2 separate regions of the Homo sapiens genome follow, and region 2 is linked to region 1. The links come from fine-mapping of genetic effects on gene expression. A gene starts in region 1. The other region holds a variant in brackets. All regions are shown on one strand. Distances are between the middles of the regions.

Region 1 (8,878 bases):
GCGCCGCCCAGCGCCAGCACCAAGGGGCCCAGCGGCCGCGGCGCCATCGGGCCGGGCGAGGGACGCAGGTGCGGGTTGCACAGGCCGAGCCCACTCGCCCGCCGAAGATGGCCCCGCTGCGACTGCTGCGGCCGCGCCCACCCACCCAGACCCAGTCCCGCACTACAAGCCCCACAATGCACTGCCGCTGTCACGGCAGGCCGCCCGGGACCCGGCGGCGTGGGTGGTGGGGCGCTGGCCGGCGCGCGGGGACCTCCGGTCCCCCTGCCAGGTGCAGGGTGGAGGAAGGAGAGGCTGTGCCTGGGGAGGACGGGAGACGGCGGTGCTTGCTAGCATCCACCAGGGGTTAGCTCACGGCTTTTCTCCGTTACCCCTTACAATGATACCACGCAGAAGGGAAAACCGAGGCCCAGGAGTTAAGTAACCCGCCCAACGCCGCATCGTAGTGCTTTGGTGTAGCCTGCGTTCAAACCCAAGCGATCTGTCTCCCGGTCATCCCTCAAGACCTCGGGAGGAAATTGAAGCAAGACGCCCGATATCACACGGCAGTGGGGTGGCAGAGGCAGGAATAGAACCCAGGTCCGTGGCTCCCCGCCACCTCTAGCCTTCTTTCGCTGCCTCCCGGACCACAGGGGTTTTGCTGGGGTCCTGGTCAGGCTGAATTAAGCAGTGTCAGGACTTCAGAATGTTTAGGGCTGACTGCCTTGTCCTAGGTACCCCCAGTGACTGCCAAGGCTTCCACGTGTGTAGCACGAGGAGGAAGAACAGGAGAAACGACCTGAGTACAGCAGTCGGGTTCTTTTGGCTCTCCAGAGGGGTGACGCCATGTACGGCTGGCTGTAGGGTACATGGGTCGAGAGACCGCCTGTGGCTCTCAGGGCCCAGCAGGGCTACCTCTTCCCCTTTATATTGTCTCAACTCTTCACCTCCTTTTAGTTTGCGATTCCTCTGTACCCCTGGCTCTGGGTCCCAGCCCCTATTCCTTCTGATTTGTCCCCCTTTCCCTTTGACTACATATATATGCTCCTCTCCTCCCAGATAGTGATGTTTTAGCTACATCTTATTTCTTCCGGCATTGATTCTTTTGAAAAATTTATTTCTGGCCGGGTGTGGTGGCTCATGCCTGTAATCCCAGCACTTTGGGAGGCCGAGGCAGGCGGATCACCTGAGGTCAGGAGTTCGAGAATAGCCTGCCTAACATGGTGAAACCCCATCTCTACAAAAATTAGCCGGGCGTGGTGGCACGTGCCTGTAATCCCACCTACTCAGGAGGCTAAGGCAGGAGAATCGCTTGAACCCAGGAGGAGGAGGTTGCAGTGTGCTGAGATTGCGCCACTGCCCTCCAGCCTGGGTGACAGAGCAAGAATCCGTCTCAAAAAAAAAAAAAAAGAAAAAAAAATTAGCTCCTCCTCAAAAATACACCCACTTAGAGGGGAAAACCCACAAAATTGCTAAGATTAAAAGTTTGGCTGGTGCGGTGGCTCACGCCTGTGATCCCAGCACTTTGGGAGGCCGAGGCAGCCGGCCGGATCACGAGGTCAGGAGATCGAGACCATCCTGGCTAACACGGTGAAACCCCATCTCTACTGAAAATCCAAAAAATTAGCCGGGCGTGGAGCCGGGCGTGGTGGCAGGCGCCTGTAGTCCCAGCTACTTGGTAGACTGAGGCAGGAGAATCGCTTGAAACTGGGAGGCAGAGGTTACTGTGAGCCGAGATTGCGCCACTGCATTCCAGCCTGGGCAACAGAGCGAGACCTTGTCTCAAAAAAAAAAAAAAAAAAAATGTTTACAGTCTATTATTTGTGGAAAAGAAATAGGTGCTCTCACATAGGTGCTATGCACCAAGACCATGACAGCTTCAGACATTGGTACCACAAATATCAGGGATAAAGTTTTTTTTTTTTTTGAGATGGAGTCTCACTCTGTAGCCCAGGCTGGAGTGCAGTAGTGTGATCTCAGGCCTCCCAAAGTGCTGGGATTACAGGCATGAGCCACCACACCCAGCCAGAAATAAATTTTTCAAAAGAATCAATGCCGGAAGAAATAAGATGTAGCTAAAACATCACTATCTGGGAGGAGAGGAGCATATATATGTAGTCAAAGGGAAAGGGGGACAAATCAGAAGGAATAGGGGCTGGGACCCAGAGCCAGGGGTACAGAGGAATCGCGAACTAAAAGGAGGTGAAGAGTTGAGACAATATAAAGGGAAAGAGGTAGCCCTGCTGGGCCCTGAGAGCCACAGGCGGTCTCTCAACCCATGTACCCTACAGCCAGCCGTACATGGCGTCACCCCTCTGGAGAGCCAAAAGAACCCGACTGCTGTACTCAGGTCGTTTCTCCTGTTCTTCCTCCTCGTGCTACACACGTGGAAGCCTTGGCAGTCACTGGGGGTACCTAGGACAAGGCAGACTGCAGCCTCCGTCTCCCAGGTTCAAGAGATTCTCCTGCCTCAGTCTCCAGAATAGCTGGGATTACAGGCACCTGTCACTACGCCTGGCTGATTTTTGTATTTTAGTAGAGACGGGGTTTCGCCGTGTTGGCCAGGATGGTCTCGAACGCCTCAGCCTCTGAAAGTGTTGGGATTACAGGCCTGAACCACCGTGCCCAGCCAGAAAAAGTTGTTTTAATCAAATAGTAACTTCCAGGAAAGTCTTAAGTTTTCATGTATTTGTGGCTAAGAAATAAATGAGATGATCCCACCTTATGATCTACATAAGGGTGCAAAGTGCTATTTCTTCCTTTTCTGACTGAGAGGTGATATACATCCCTTCCTGTGGTGGATAAAGAGCAAGGTGCCAGCTTTGCTTCCACAGAGGTTAAAAAATATGGCATATTTTAAAAGCTCCAAATTAACAAAGGAACACCTTTAACACACACACGCACGCACACATATACACACAATTATACTGCAATGTAATTGTGCTGTTGATAAGCTAATTATAGAATTCATCAAAGACTTTAATTCTTAGTGCACTCAAGCACCCTGGTCTGGAAACAGCGCTTAAGTTTCAAGTCGCATGAGCAAGGCCTCTCAGTTCTGCCAGTACGGCTGGAAGCCTCAAATGCTGAAATCTAAATGTGACATTCACCCTGCACCACCAATCATAGCTCTCCTGAGATGAGTTTTGATGGCGAGCTTTGGACTGGGGTAGAAACGTGGATAGATTTTTGCAAATTCTGCTGTAACTTCGTTGCTTCGCCTTCTTTGTGAACCCTTCAGGGATAAGAGAAGTCTTCCTTCAGGATGTGACTGACACCTCAGCTGGCGCCTCTAAGCCTCACTCTCCTTTATGTAAAAGAGAAATGATATTAGGATCGCCTTCCCTAGGGGAGGCAGGTGAGGTCGGTTCCCTTTTTTGGTTCAGCTACTAGTACGAACCCTGCCTAACCCCGCTGTTTTGGGAGACAGTCCGTGCTCACTGCACCGCTTGCTAATCGAAGTGACTTCTCATCTCTCCCAGTCTCAGCTTCACCTCCGTGAAGTGGGAAAAACAGGATGACAAGTGCTCGCACTTGGCAGCCCTTTTTGAGCCTTGAGGGCTTGGGTTTGTGGGTGTCATTTTACTATGCTACCTCCGTCTTCCCTTAGCTTGTCACGGACCCAGGCACAGCACACGCGCTGAGGAAGTGGTGGTGAAGTGTGGCGTTTCCTCTCGGGGCTGGCGGATTCCACACTCGGAGCTGCGGCTCCACAACTCGCTGGGCGGCGAAGGGCATGGGGAGGGGGCGGGTCTCGCGATCGTGGACAACAACTCCCAGCATGCCCTGTGCTCCGCTGGGCCAAGTCTCGCGCGAGATCCCGCGGTCTCCGGAGGCTTTATCTGCAGTGCTGCCTGCCCGCTGGGTGGTACTGCTACCTAGTGGGTCTTGGGGACCTTCGAAATCGCCGCCGCTCTCACAATGGCTTGGGTCCAGACTGCGCCACAGCCTCTCGGGAGACGTGGGCCCTCGGAACCTTTTTAGTGCCGGACTCCGGGCCGCAGGCAGTCCCGCGGCAGCAGGATCACAGGTGAACAGATGGCGGGCCTGGGCCCTCCCTTGGGGCTGCGTTCTCTGGCGATCAGGAGGGGCGCTTCCGGCGAGGCCCGATCTCGGGGCCCCTCCAAGCCACTCCCCTCTCCCCGCACCTCTTAACCCTTCATCCCGGCTTCGAGCTCGGCTGGGTCGCCTCTTGCCTCCCTGGCTCCGCTCTCTGGGGTCTCCGTAATGGGGCTTCTCTCCGGGAATGCCCTGCAGCTCCCGTACGGGCTTCCCCTCCGCTTCGTGGGACCAGCCCAGCCCGAGCCCCCGCGGCTTGTCCTCAACCTCATCTCCCCACACCCCGCCTTCGGCTAGGGTCCTGGCCCTAATCTTAGCCTGGAGGGGTGGGTGAAGCAGCCGGCCTTTCGTATCCTGGCGGCACCGTCTTGTATATTGTGAAGGAGAGGCAGAGGGACGGTGAGCTGGGGGGTGGGGGCACAGGGAAAGGGAAAGGGGAAGGGGACGTGTCTGGGGCGGGAATGCTCCCTGGACTGGGAGGATGGCTGAATTCGGCCTTTGCGATGCTCGTTAGTGAAGAACTATCAATAACTTGTTTGCTCTGTCTGAGTCCTATCGGGATAGAGGGACGGTGTAGCAAGCTGAAAAACAAGAGTAACTTTCTCAGGCCCTCGTTTTAACTCCCCTGTAAACTGGGCATGAAACTACCTACCTTGCGCACGGACCACTTATCTGTGACCGTGGACAAATTTACTTAACTCCTCTGATTTTTAGTTTCCTTCTCTTTATTATTATTTTTAACATTTTTTTAATTTTTTTAATTTTTATTTTTGAGACCGAGTCTCACTCCGTCGCCCAGGCTGGAGTACAGTGGCTCGATCTCGGCTCACTGCAACCTCCGCCTCCCGGGTTCAAGCTATTCTCCTGCCTCAGCCTCCCGAGTAGCTGGGATTACAGGCGCCCGCCACCATGCCCGGCTAATTTTTGTATTTTTAGTAGAGATGGGGTTTCACCATGTTGGCCAGGCTAGTCTCGAACTCCTGACCTCAAGTGATCTGCCCGCCTGGGTCTCGCAAAATGCTGGGATTACAGGCGTGAGCCACCGCACCCGGCCAGTTTCCTTCTCTTTAAATTTGGGATAGCCTTTCTGTAAGAGATAGCTTAAAAAAAAAACTGGGGTCGGGCGCGGTGGCTCACGCTTGTAATCCTAGCACTTTGGGAGGCCGAGGTGGGCGGATCGCAAGGTCAGGAGATCAAGACCATCCTGGCTAGTGCGGTGAAACCCCATCTCTACTAAAAATACAAAAAATTAGCCAGGCGTGGTGGCAGACGCCTGTAGTCCCAGCTACTTGGGAGGCTAAGGCAGGAGAATGGCGTGAACCCGGGAGGTGGAGCTTGCAGTGAGCCAAGATCGCGCCACTGCACTCCAGCCTGGGCGACAGAGTGAGACTCCGTCTCAAAAAAAAAAAAAAAAAAAAATTGGGATTGGGATAAATAATATCTGCTTTGCCATCTTGCTGCAAGGATTAAAAGACAAGATAAACGCTGTAAATAGTTTATAGTGTTAGCTATAAAGAACAAATTTCCCTACTGTAGTATCTAGCCGCTTGCTGTGAGTTAAGAAAATGAAATGAGCAAGGTTGTTGTGGGGAATAAACAAGTGTTTGGCAGACTCTGACGGGCTGTTCCAATGCTGGCTGTTTGTTGTTATTAGAACCTCTGGATGGACTCTTCCTGGGAAGCTTTGCTACTTTGCAGCAGCTGGACCATGTTCCTCATTAACATCTGTCTGTCCGCTTAGTCATCACATCATTTCACTGTGGTAAGGTGACTTTTTCACCATGTATGGCATCTTAGCTCTGTCATCTCACAGGTGTTAAGATCAGCCACAGGTGTGGTGAGACGTTTGACTTTATCCTTCTTTTTTCATTGGCATGTTTGTCACCCACTGGCTCTTGCATGTGTGTTTCAACCTTGTAAACAAGCCGTTCAATTCTGTGTGCCTGCCAGAAGAACAGCATTGGTGCTGCTCACCATAAGAAAATGCCCTTTGTTATTTTATTAGGTGGCAGGGACTCAGCTCGGAATTCTGTATAGAAAAAGCACCTGGATCCCAGTCTTTCAATGGCTTCAAGACAACCAGAAGTGCCTGGTAAACTTAATTCTTTTTGGTAAAATCATGTTTTGCCCTTATTAATGTTTTAAGCTAGACAGAAACCATTTTATCGGAACTATATATTAATGGTTAATCTCTGCTACCAAGCGAGTATTTAGATTTACTAGATTGGCTTATTTTATTTTATTTTATTTTTTTGAGATGGAGTCTTGCTCTGTTGCCCAGGCTGGAGTGCAGCGGCACAATCTCGGCTCACTGCTACCTCCGCTTCCTGGGTTCAAGCCATTCTCCTGCCTCAGCCTCCCCAGTAGCTGGGATTACAGGTGCCCGCCACCACACCCAGCTAATTTTTGTATTTTTTGTAGAGACGGGGTTTCACCATATTGGCCAGGCTGGTCTGGAACTCCTGACCTTTTTTTTTTTTTTTTTTTTTGAGACAGAGTCTTGCTCTGTCGCCCAGGCTGGAGTGCAGTGGCGCGATCTCAGCTCACTGCAAGCTCCGCCTCCCGGGTTCACACCATTCTCCTGCCTCAGCCTCCCGAGTAGCTGGGACTACAGGCGCCCACCACCATGCCCAGCTAATTTTTTGTATTTTTAGTAGAGACGAGGTTTCACCGTGTTAGCCAGGATGGTCTCGATTTCTTGACCTTGTGATCCGCCCGCCTCGGCCTCCCAAGGTAATGGGATTACAGGCGTGAGCCACCGTGCCCGGCGGAACTCCTGACCTTGTGATCTGCCTGCCTCGGCCTCCCAAAGTGTTGGGATTACAGGTGTGAGCCACCACGCCCAGCCAGTTTTATTTTATTTTTGAGTCTCACTCTGCTGCCCAGGCTAGAATACAGTGGTGTGATCTCAGCTCACTGCAACCTCCGCCTCCTGGGCTCAAGTGATTCTCCTGCCTCAGCCTCGAGTAGCTGGGATTACAGCTGCCTGCCACCACGCCCGGCTAATTTTTGTATTTTTAATAGAGACAGGGTTTCTCCATGTTGGCCAGGCTGGTCTCAAACTCCTGACCTCAGGTGATCCTTCCACCTTGGCCTCCCAAAGTGCTGGGATTACAGGTGTGAGCCACCACGCCTAGCCTTAGATTGGCATCATTTAAATATTTTATTAGCCGCTCAGCCATAGTATGAAACTTTAACTTAAAGAGAATAGTCACTTCATTTAAGGGTATTATGACAAGTTTGTTACTTTCCTAGTTATCAAATAATAATTCAGAATAAGTTGTGCAGTTCTTGTAGTATGTACCAAAGTGATTAAACTCACCTTTTTGGGGGTGATGGGGAGGTGGGATGGAAGTCTTGGTAAAAAGGCACCAGCCTGCTTAAATGGCAGATTGAACTTAATCATGAAAATGCTCACAGCAACCCTTAATGAGTCAAGTTCTGGGTTATTGACACCATTGATGACTACTTGAATTGTTTTATGAGAAAGGAAAGTGATTTTTAATTACATCTGAATCGCTTAATTTCTGATTCTCGGTAAAGTATGATGATGAAGAAAGATGATGGTTCCTATCTCTCGGGGTTGTGAAGATTAAACAAAATATGTAAAAACAGGAGTTAAAAATCAGTGATAAATATGTATTTACTGCCCAGAATGCATTTGGTCTGTCTTTATATGAACATATTTTCCAGTAAATACTAGCTGACTTTATTTGTTTTAGGATGGCTGTTCAGTGGGAGTCTTTAAGATGTTTTTGAAATTGCTCCCCAAGTCTCCCGTATTCCCCAATATAGATCCATCTCTAGTCTTAACATCATCAGCTCCGTTTTAGTTTGTCTTTCATTGTTGCTGTGATTACCACAAACTCCGTGTAGCCGTCGCGAGCCATAGGATTGTGCCCATTCAGTGAATGCTTTGTAGTGTGTTGCATGCAGAGTGTGTGCACCGGCTCAGGTCTGTGTTCCAGTTCCCAGCACACTCTTTCAAGCTAGGTGATATTGGGCAAGTTGATTGTGAAAATGGAAAATTTGAAAATGGGAAGAATATCTGCTTCATGAGGATTAGATAAGATGAGGGATGTAATTGTCTAGCAAGGAGGAAGACTTAGTAATTATTATTTGCTTGTGTGTGTGTTTGAGATGTAATGCACATATCATAAAATTCACCCACTGAAAGTGAACAATGTCGTGATTTTTAGTATATTCACAGGGTTGTGCAAACAACACTACGATCAATTGCAGCACATTTTCTTTTCTTTTCTTTTTTTTTTTGAGATGGAATCTCGCTCTGTTGCCTAGGTTGGAATGCAGTGGCACGATCTTGGCTCTCTGCAACCTCCGCCTCCTGGGTTCAAGCAATTCTCCTGCCTCAGTCTCCCAAGTAGCTGGGACTACAGGCACGTACCACCACGCCTGGCTAATTTTTGTATTTTGAGTAGAGATGGGATTTCACCATGTTGGCTAGGCCGGAACGCCTGACCTCAGGTGATCCACCCACATCAGCCTCCCAAAGTGCTGGGATTACAGGTGTGAGCCACCACACCCATCCAAACTGCAGTACGTTTTCATAACCTCCAAAGGAAAACCTCGTACCATTAGCAGTCGTATCCTCACTCCCCCCACCCACTCCCTGGCAACCTCTAATCCTCTTTTTATTTCTATGGTTTTGTTAATTATTACTAATAGCAATAGTAATAATAATGATAGCTGCTTGGTCCCCTTGCCGTTTAAATGAAACCTTTTGTGGTTTTGGACTTATTGCCAGGCAGGTTGATGTCTTAGAGAGTGTTATTATATGATTTTAGCCACAGGAAAATGTTACCTTTCAGGTAGGTTCTGG
Region 2 (8,878 bases), 52 kb before region 1:
AGACCAGCCCAGTTAATATAGCGAGGCCCTGTCTCTAAATAAAAAAATTAAAAAGAAAAAAAAAAAAACACCTGGAAGGTCCCTTCACCCCAACTCCACTTCCACCCCCAACTTGGCGGCACATCTTTCCTTTCGCTCTTCCAGTCCATATTTCATAGTTGCCTTTCAAGTCCCACATTAGAAATAGCAGACAGCCCAAATCCCATGGTGTTTCTTTGCATCGTCTCCCTATACCCCGTGTTTAAATGTCACAGCGCCTCACACACAGTGCTTTGACAGGCCATTTGCCATCTGTTGGTCTCACCGGATTGTAATCTCCGCATGGCCATGGCTGGATTTTATAAAACGTTGCTGTCCTGGTGCTTGGCAAAGCGCAGGCAGGGAGGAGGCATTCAGAGCCTGTTCACAGAGGGCAGCGGGCAGCGTGGAGAGTGGTAGGCTGCCTGGGTAAACCAGGTCTGCCTTTCTCAGGCTGGTTCATACCTAAAGGACATTTAAGGGGCCTAGCTGGCCATCCAAACTCTGGTCGTATGAACTGAAGCCTCCTCAAGGGAGATACACAAAAAAATACACAAAACAACACGGCCTAGTGGGAAAGGACCTGGACTTGCATGAAAAGGTGCGGGGCAGCCTTTCCCAGCCTCAATTTTCCTCTTCTTACAGAGGCGGAGGCTCATAGAATGAGGTGCATGACATCCCAACCTAGGAGAAGAAACTTCTGCAGAATGAATCAGGAGCCAGGTCTGCGCTCCCGAGGCCAGAGGTGGCCTCCTGTCGCAGCTCTGTGCACGGTACGGCCACTCTGTGCCCTGCGTTTCGCCTCCAGGCCGGGCGGGAGCAGTGCCTAGCCCAGGTGTCCTCGACGCGAGCAGCTGGGCGCCGCTGCGGAGGGAGGGAAGCGCCGCGCCGGTCCCGGGCCCAGCGCTGCGCCCAGTCCTGAGGCGCCCTCCTGCGGCCGCTGCTCGGCGACCTCCCGGCCCTGCGGCCCCGCCCCCGCGGTGACGTCACCGCATTCCGGCTCCGCTCCTCCCGCCGCGGCGCCCGCACCGCAGTGACAGCCAGCCGGGCCCGGTGGCGGAGAGGAAGTGCGGTCCGCGCCAAGCCCGTCCCCGCCGACGCCGGCTCCCCCGCGGCTCGGGTGACAGCGTCGCGGCCGCCGGACGCAGCGCGGGGCAGGCGCGGGCAGAGCCGAGCGCAGCGGAGGCTCCGGCGGAGGCGCGGGGAAAATGGCTGATGACTTTGGCTTCTTCTCGTCGTCGGAGAGCGGTGCCCCGGAGGCGGCGGAGGAGGACCCGGCGGCCGCCTTCCTGGCCCAGCAGGAGAGCGAGATTGCAGGCATAGAGAACGACGAGGGCTTCGGGGCACCTGCCGGCAGCCATGCGGCCCCCGCGCAGCCGGGCCCCACGAGTGGGGGTGAGTCAGCGCGGGGCCTGGAGAGGGGCTCAGGGCGCGCACCCGGGGGACCCCGGCCGGGGCCCAGGGGCACAGGGAAGAGAGCCTGCTCTAGGCCACCCGGGGCAGGAGCTGGGAGACGTGGGGAAGAATCTTCTTGGAGATCTCCATGTAGGACTTCCGAGCTGGGGATGAGGCCTCGCCTGGGGCTGTGGATCTGGTGACTCCCGGGACAGGAATTCGGTCATGACATTTCATCCCCAGGCCAGCTTCCCCACTGCCCGGCTCTGGAATCCAACCCCACCTCAGTTTTGAGAGTCCCTCCTGAGCCTCCTAATAGCCTGGGTGTCCCAGGCTCCCAGCTAAGTGTGCAGGTGTGGGCAGAACACAGCCCTCCTGGCCCCTCAGGCTTAGCTCTCTCCTGCAGCTGGGAAAAAAGAGGATCCTGGGTGCTCCAGGAACTCACTAACCTTCCCCGGTGACCGCCTGGCATTCGGCAGTCGCTGGGCTAAGCGCCTTGGTTACATTTAATCACTTCATACACGTGATTGAACCCATTTCAGAGATGGTAAAACTGAGGCTCAAGGGAGTATGCTATTGAAATAACTAGTAAGTGGCAGATCAAGAATTTAAACCTGTTTCTTTTTCTTTTACATATATATTTTTTCTTTTCCTTTTTTTGAGATGGGGTCTCGCTATGTTGCCCAGACTGGTCTTGAGCTCCTGGGCTCAAGCAATCCTCCCACCTCTGCCTCCTAAAGTGTTGGGATTACAGGTGTGAGTCACCACACCTGGCCGTGAATTTAAACCTGTTCCTGTCGGACTTGAAGCCCTCTCCACCTGACCACACTGCCTACCAAGTGTCTGGCTCTGAGTTAGACACCGGAGTGTGGGCCACAAAGAGGCATCAGTCAGATGCGGTAGGGCCCTTCAGGGTTTTGTAGTTGTCGACTTAATGGTTTTCCAAAGGTGGTCCGGGGCTATTATGATTTACTGTGATTGGCTTCAGACCTCAGTGTTCAGGGCCTAGTCCCTGTGAAATCATCTTTATCAATGATGTTTCTGCCCTGGTTCTGGCTAGCAAGAATGATTTTGTAAAATATTTAGTAAAAAAGTAGATATCACCTTCATGGGTACATCCAAAACAGGTTTTACTTCCTGTTGATGTCATTTTGGAAAGGTTTATGGGCCTGTTGTAGTAAGTGCTAACATATATACATATAGACATATTTTGGTTAATGATGTTTACAAGGCTCTTCACAGTCATGTTTGTATCCATTCAACGTTTACTGAGCACCTACTGTGTGTCAGGACGCTGGGGATACAGAAATGAATAAGACAGTTCCTGTGGCTGAGGAGTTTGAAGCAACTCTGTATCTCCTTGATATGAGAAATGTAACCAGGCTTTTGTAACATGCAAGAAACCGGTGGCCCAGAGAATCTGAGTATCTTGCCCAGAGTCACACAGCCAGGAATGACCAATCTAGGACTTGATCCCACGCCTCCCAACTCTGGGCTCCATGCTCTTTCAAATGCTGTGGAGCCTGGGCAACATGGTGAAACCCCATCTCTACAAAACATACAAAAATTAGCCAGGCATGGTGGCATGTAGCTGTAGTTGTAGTTCCAGCTGCT[C/T]GGGAAGGCTGAGGCAGGAGCATAGCTTGAGCCCGGGAGGTGTAGGTAGGTCGCCGTGTGCTGTGATCACGTCTCTGTACTCCAGCCTGGGCAGCAGAGTGAGACCCTGTCTCAAAAAAAAAAAAAAAAAGATTCTATAGCAGTCACCTCCCTGGCAGGAGATAGGATGTGGGGTGAGAAGCATGGGGTCTTTTGCCACCTATCTGAGACAGCAATGGAGGGCTTCTGAAGTGGAAGCTTCCAGCACCTCAATACAGAATCTGCCGTGTCCCAGGGAATTCCTAAGAAATGCCTGCCCCAGTTAATGCACCAGTATTCACTGGACCACACCTCTGTGAGACCACCCTTTTCCTCAGTCTGGCTCACTGGGGCCTGTTGGGGTCGGGGTGCAGGGAAGAGGAGGGAGGCCTTGTGGGGAGGTCCTGCTGAGGGGAGCCATTGTGAGAACCTCAGGAGAGAAAAGATGGGATTCAGGCTGAGGGCAGCCAGATGCCTGAGGGAGCTGAGCAGGTTGTGGCCTCTCCCAGGATGGTGGGGCTCCAGGGACTTACAGTCTGGATGGCAAGTTCTGTCCTTGGCAGGGGTGGGGCACAAATTGGCCTCAGACCAGAGGTGACAGGGAGAGAAACAATGACACGCTCGCTTCTTCCAGGGAGGTGCCGGGGATACAGCCTTCTGAGGGTCTCCCAGGCGCATACCTGCTGACTCTGCAAAGGCTCAGCTGCCCTCCTTAGTTGGATCGGGGAGCAGGGAGGTGTTGAGGGATGGCGGCTCAGTGGATGGCCAGATGGGCTAGAATTGATCTGACCTTCTCAGCCTATGCAGTGCTGAACAGGTAATCTTCCCCTGACCAGGGATGTGTGCCAGGAGCCTGGATGGGGCAGAGAAAAAGCGCCCTGGCCTGCTGAGAGCTGGGCAAAAGCTGGCTTAGCAGCGGCCGCCAGTCAGTACCTCTGAGGCACCTTCTCTTAGATGTTGGGGTCCTCAGATTAGCAATCTCTGTGCTGACACTGGGCTCAGTTGCCCCTGGGGAAAGAGGTATCTGGTGTAGGCCTGTGCTGGAGCCACAGGGAGCCCCTCCTCTCTGGCTGGATCTGTGGCCCTGGGTGATCTGGATGATGGACACTTTGTTTCCATTCATCAGCCTTGGGTAGGTTTCCATTTTCACACCCAGTTTTCTGAGCACCAGGCCTGGCTCTGACTTGCCTGTCAGTTCTGGGCAAGCCCATTTCCCCCGCTGGGCCTCGTAAGCTCACAGGAATGTTCTGGACCCTCTCTGCCCTTGTTCCAAAATGGGTCAGGCAGCTGAGGGAAGCAAACCCTCAGGGGTTTATCCCTGGGACGTGTCTCTGTCTCAGTCCTGTTCTGCTGGCCTGTGAGTGTGGACTCCCGGTGGTAGATGGGCAGTGGGTGGGTGGAGAGCACTGTGGGAACAGGTACTTGGAATGCTGTGTAGGTGTGTGTGGACTCTTAAGGAGGCCGAAACTGCATGTCCAGAGGAACACTCTCGAGGCTGAGGCAGAGAGACTTTCTGAAGGTCAGGGTAGACCCCAGGCAGCTGTGTGTAGATGTGGGGTCTGAGACTGGGGTTGGTCAGGGCGGAGTAGGGTGGTGCAAATTCTCGAGAAGGCCAAATGTACAGACCGGCATCACAGGGAATAGACCCTGGTAACGTGAGGCCCTGCTAGAGGAGACACCCCAGCAGAAGAAGCCCCTTTGCAGAAGATGCTGCCACTGAAATGCTATTGGTCCCACTGTGATTTAGGGGCCAGGACACCCATGCAGGAGAAGCCTTATCTGAAGGAATGGGAGTGACAGCTGACAGAGTTGGTTGGAATCAATCACTGGTTGACTCTGAAAGCAAAGTCAATTATGATTTATGTCACCCGGGGATTATTTCCATGGGATTAAGTACCCTTCCCTTGAGTCCCCAGGCCAAACACACTGTCGCTGCTCACAGCCCTGTCTGGCTGGTGAAGGGCTATTTGTCCATCTGCCTATTAACCTCATGTGGCCTCCATGGCTTTTTGCTAGGAGGCACAGCAGTTTCTGAGAGCCTTGCAGATAACAGCAGGCCTCAAAACAACAATTCAACTTCCATTTAGCCAATAGTTACTGCTCACCCATTCCGTGCTGGAGCCCTGAGGAGCTGAATAGGACACGGAGCCTGGTAAGGGGGTACACACGGACCCTGGGGGTCATGAGTAATTGCACAAGAGGGTGCAGGATACTGTATGATATCCTGGGATACCCCGGAAGTGAGACCTTCCGTAAGTGCCTAGGGAAGTAAAGGAAGCAGAGGAGGGCTTCCCAGAGGAGGTGACTTATGAGCTGGACCTTGGAGAATAAATGGAGCCAAAAAAGCATTCTTTTTTTTTTTTTTTTTTTGAGATGAGTCTCACTCTGTCGCCCAGGCTGGAGTGCAGTGGCGGGATCTCGGCTCACTGCAAGCTCCGCCTCCCGGGTTCACACCATTCTCCTGCCTCAGCCTCCCGAGTGGCTGGGACTACAGGCGCCTGCCACCACGCCTGGCTAATTTTTTGTATTTTTAGTAGAGACGGGGTTTCACCGTGTTAGCCAGGATGGTCTCGATCTCCTGACTTCGTGATCTGCCCACCTCAGCCTCCCAAAGTGCTGGGATTACAGGCATAAGCCACCACGCCCGGCCCAAAAAAGCATTCTTTAGAGAGGGAAGCAGGAAGAAAGCATGGGGATGAGGGTGGTGTGTTTGGAGAAGGAGGAAACCAGAATTTAGGGTTTGTGGGATGGGCTGGTGGGAAGTGAGTCAGGAATGGGCAGGGCCAGATTGTAGAGATCCTCATGTTCCAGGGTTAGATGTACTTATCTGGCAAATATTTATTGAGTCCTTGTTATGTTCCAGGGACTGTTGTAGGTGGGCCTCATCATGGATGAAACCAAGTCCACACCCTCATGGAGGGTCTGTTTGTTGGGGGAAGACAGATAATAAACACATACACAAATAAACACAGCAGGCTGTAGTAAGTGCGCTTAATACTGCAGGAGGAATAGGAAGGGGTGCCCAAGGGGTGGATGGGGGTGTGGTCAGGGAGGCCTTTAATTAGGCAGCATTTGAGCAGAAGCTGAAGGGAGTGAGGGAGCAGCCTTCCAGGCAGAGGGAACAGCACCTGCAAAGTCCCCAAGGCAGGAGTAGGCGCTATAGGCCACTGTGGTCCATGGGAAGTGGATTTCTTTGGAGTTTGTTTTCATGACATTTTGAGTCAGAGGAGAGGCACAGGTAAGTGCATGTTTTACAGACTGTCAGCCCTGGCAATTGGTTTGAAAGAGGGATGGGAGAGGCTGGAGTCAAGGGGGCCTGTGAATGGGCAAAAGCCATGCAGTCGTTGTCTTTCTTTCATGCATGTATTTACTTGTTTATTCAACAAATAATTATTGAGCACCTGCAAAGTCACAGGTGCATGCAAGTCTCTGGGAAAGACACAGGAGAAGAGAAAGAGACACAGTTATGTCTTCCCAGGTGTTTGCCCCTAGCGGGCAAAGCAGTTGTGCAGGTGCAAGGTGGTGAGGTCCTGGGCTGGGGCTGAGCTGCGGGAGAGAGTGGAGGGCAACTGTGAATGTCAGTGTTGTAGCAGAAGCCCCAGGAATTTGTGACTAATCAAATGTCAAGGAAAGGGACAGGGAGGAGTCACTGCTGAGGGCAAACTTAATTCCTTCTGGGAGGGGCACAAAGAGAAAAAATATGCCAGGTGCTTCTGGTGGGAACTGCAACTCCTGCTCACCCAGGAGGAGCAGTTGCTCAAGGCGCCTCAGGGACAGGCAGAGACGCGTAGGCCCCTCTCTTCCTTATCCAGTGTAGCCCCTGCCCTGAGCTTACAGCAGCTCAGCCTACTCACCAGGCACAGGCTTCACAGGTAATCTGGCCATTCCCAGCCATGGCCAGGGGTCAGTGATTTCAGGTAGGTAAGGAGCTATTACTGGCTGGGTGATTTTGAGCATGGCCTCTCTGAGCCTCAGCTTGAGTATCTGTAAAATGGGTTGACAACAATTTCATTGCAGGGCTGTGGTGAACATAAAATGTACTAATGGCTGTGAGAGGCTTTATAAACAGTCAGGGGTGGGATTGAGCCTAAGTTATATATATATCCATTATGTCTGTTTGCATGTGGGTCGATATATACATGGGTATACACAGAGTTTGGGTTGAGGGGCTAATGTAGGACCATTTCCTGCTTGCTATAAGCTAAACAGTGAGTAATGCTATCTCCTTGTTCTCTTTCCAGCTGGTTCTGAGGACATGGGGACCACAGTCAATGGAGATGTGTTTCAGGTAAGCAAGGCTCTGTCTCAGCAGTGGTAAGGACCAACAGCCCTGGTCTCAGTAACCTAAAGCCTCATTGTTGTAGGCTTACAGCTCCAGGTTCTCCTGTTCATTATGTCTGATGCATTGGGGTGGAAACATAGAGAAAGGTTTTTGGAATTTTTTTTGTCATGTAGAGGGCAGGGAAGAAGAATAAGGACCACTAGAGATCGAGATTGATGGGCAGTAGCCTCAGGTTGCCCATGGTGATGTCTGGTTTTGGGAGGGAGAGGTCAAGTGGCCCACAGCAGCATGAGATGAAGGCAGCGCAAGGCCTTCCCTCACCACTGACGGGAGGCAGAACCCAGGCCATCTCCACACACAGGGCGGGCCCTTTGATCCAGAGATTCCACTTCCAGAATTTTCCCAAAGGAAATAATTGGACAAGGCCACCCAGATTCTTTGCAGGGTTATTTATAATGGCAGACAATTTGGAGACAACCTAAGTGTCCAGCATCAGGGAACTGAATAGATAGATTAGAAAACCAGGCTGTTGTTAAAAAGGGCAATCAGGGCCGGGTGCAGTGGCTGACGCCTGTAATCCCAGCACTTTGGGAGGCTGAGGTGGGTGGATCACGTGAGGTCAGAGTTCAAGACCAGCCTGGCCAACATAGTGAAACCCCGTCTTTACTAAAAATACAGAAAATTAGCCAGTCATTGTGGCAGGTGCCTGTAATTCCAGCTACTCGGGAGGCTAAGGCAGGAGAATCACTTGAACCCAGAAGGTGGAGGTTGCAGTGAGCTGAGATTGTGCCATTGCTCTCCAGCCTGGGAGATGAGAGTGAAACTCTGTCTGAAAAAAAAAAAAAAAAAAAAAAAAGGGCAATCAGATCTTCCTGTATTGACGTGAAAAGATGTCCACAATATATTAAGTGGAAAAAGCAGCTTGCAGAATAATATACACAGTATGGTCCTTTTTTTTTTTTTTTTTTTCAATTTTAAAAATATGTTTGGGCTGGGCGTGGTGGCTCATGCCTGTAACCCTAGCACTTTGGGAGGCCAAGGCAGGTGGATCATGAGGTTGGAAGATTGAGACCATCCTGGCTAACACGGTGAAACCGCACCTCTACTAAAAATACAAAATTAGCTGGGTGTGGTGGCACAAGCCTATAATCCTAACTACTTGGGAGGCTGAGGCAGGAGAATAGCTTGAATCCGGGAGTGGGAGGTTGCGGTGAGCCGAGATCACGCCACTGCACTCCAGCCTGGGCAACAAGAGCAAAACTCTATCTCAAAAAAATAAAACTAAAGGTTTGCACTACATATCTGAAAGGATGTGTACCAGCTGTTAACAATGGTTAGCCCCAAGGGTGGGGTGGGATGGGGATAAGAAAGGGGCATTCACTTTCACTGGGTTGTTTACAAATTCTTTAAGTGTTTTTATCCTGCAAAAAACGAGGAAAACCCAGCCGGGCACGGCGGCTTACGCCTGTAATCCCAGATTTTGGGAGGCCAAAGTGAGAAGATCATGTGAATCCAGGAGTTTGAGACCAAACTGGGCAACATAGTAAGACC

The links. PIP is the estimated chance that this variant, and not a neighbour inherited with it, causes the effect.
Region 2: its variant is fine-mapped to the expression of KIAA1191 in whole blood (TOPMed, PIP 0.97).

The regions. Positions count from the first base shown.
Region 1 is chr5:176,356,733-176,365,610 of GRCh38, reverse strand. KIAA1191 reads left to right here and starts at 3,847. Exons shown (of 9, transcript NM_020444.5): 1 at 3,847-4,009; 2 at 5,693-5,800; 3 at 6,044-6,130. The coding sequence starts at 6,103. It overlaps ARL10 (ARF like GTPase 10), which reads right to left and starts at 124. Exons shown (of 4, transcript NM_173664.6): 1 at 1-124. The coding sequence starts at 47. RefSeq lists a silencer at 1-259 and enhancers at 410-659, 3,772-4,091.
Region 2 is chr5:176,408,712-176,417,589 of GRCh38, reverse strand. It overlaps CLTB (clathrin light chain B), which reads left to right and starts at 1,051. Exons shown (of 6, transcript NM_007097.5): 1 at 1,051-1,413; 2 at 7,287-7,333. The coding sequence starts at 1,227. It also overlaps a transcript of ARL10 not described here. RefSeq lists silencers at 759-1,218, 1,259-1,358, 1,469-1,548. The variant C/T (reference allele first, on the strand shown) is at 3,028.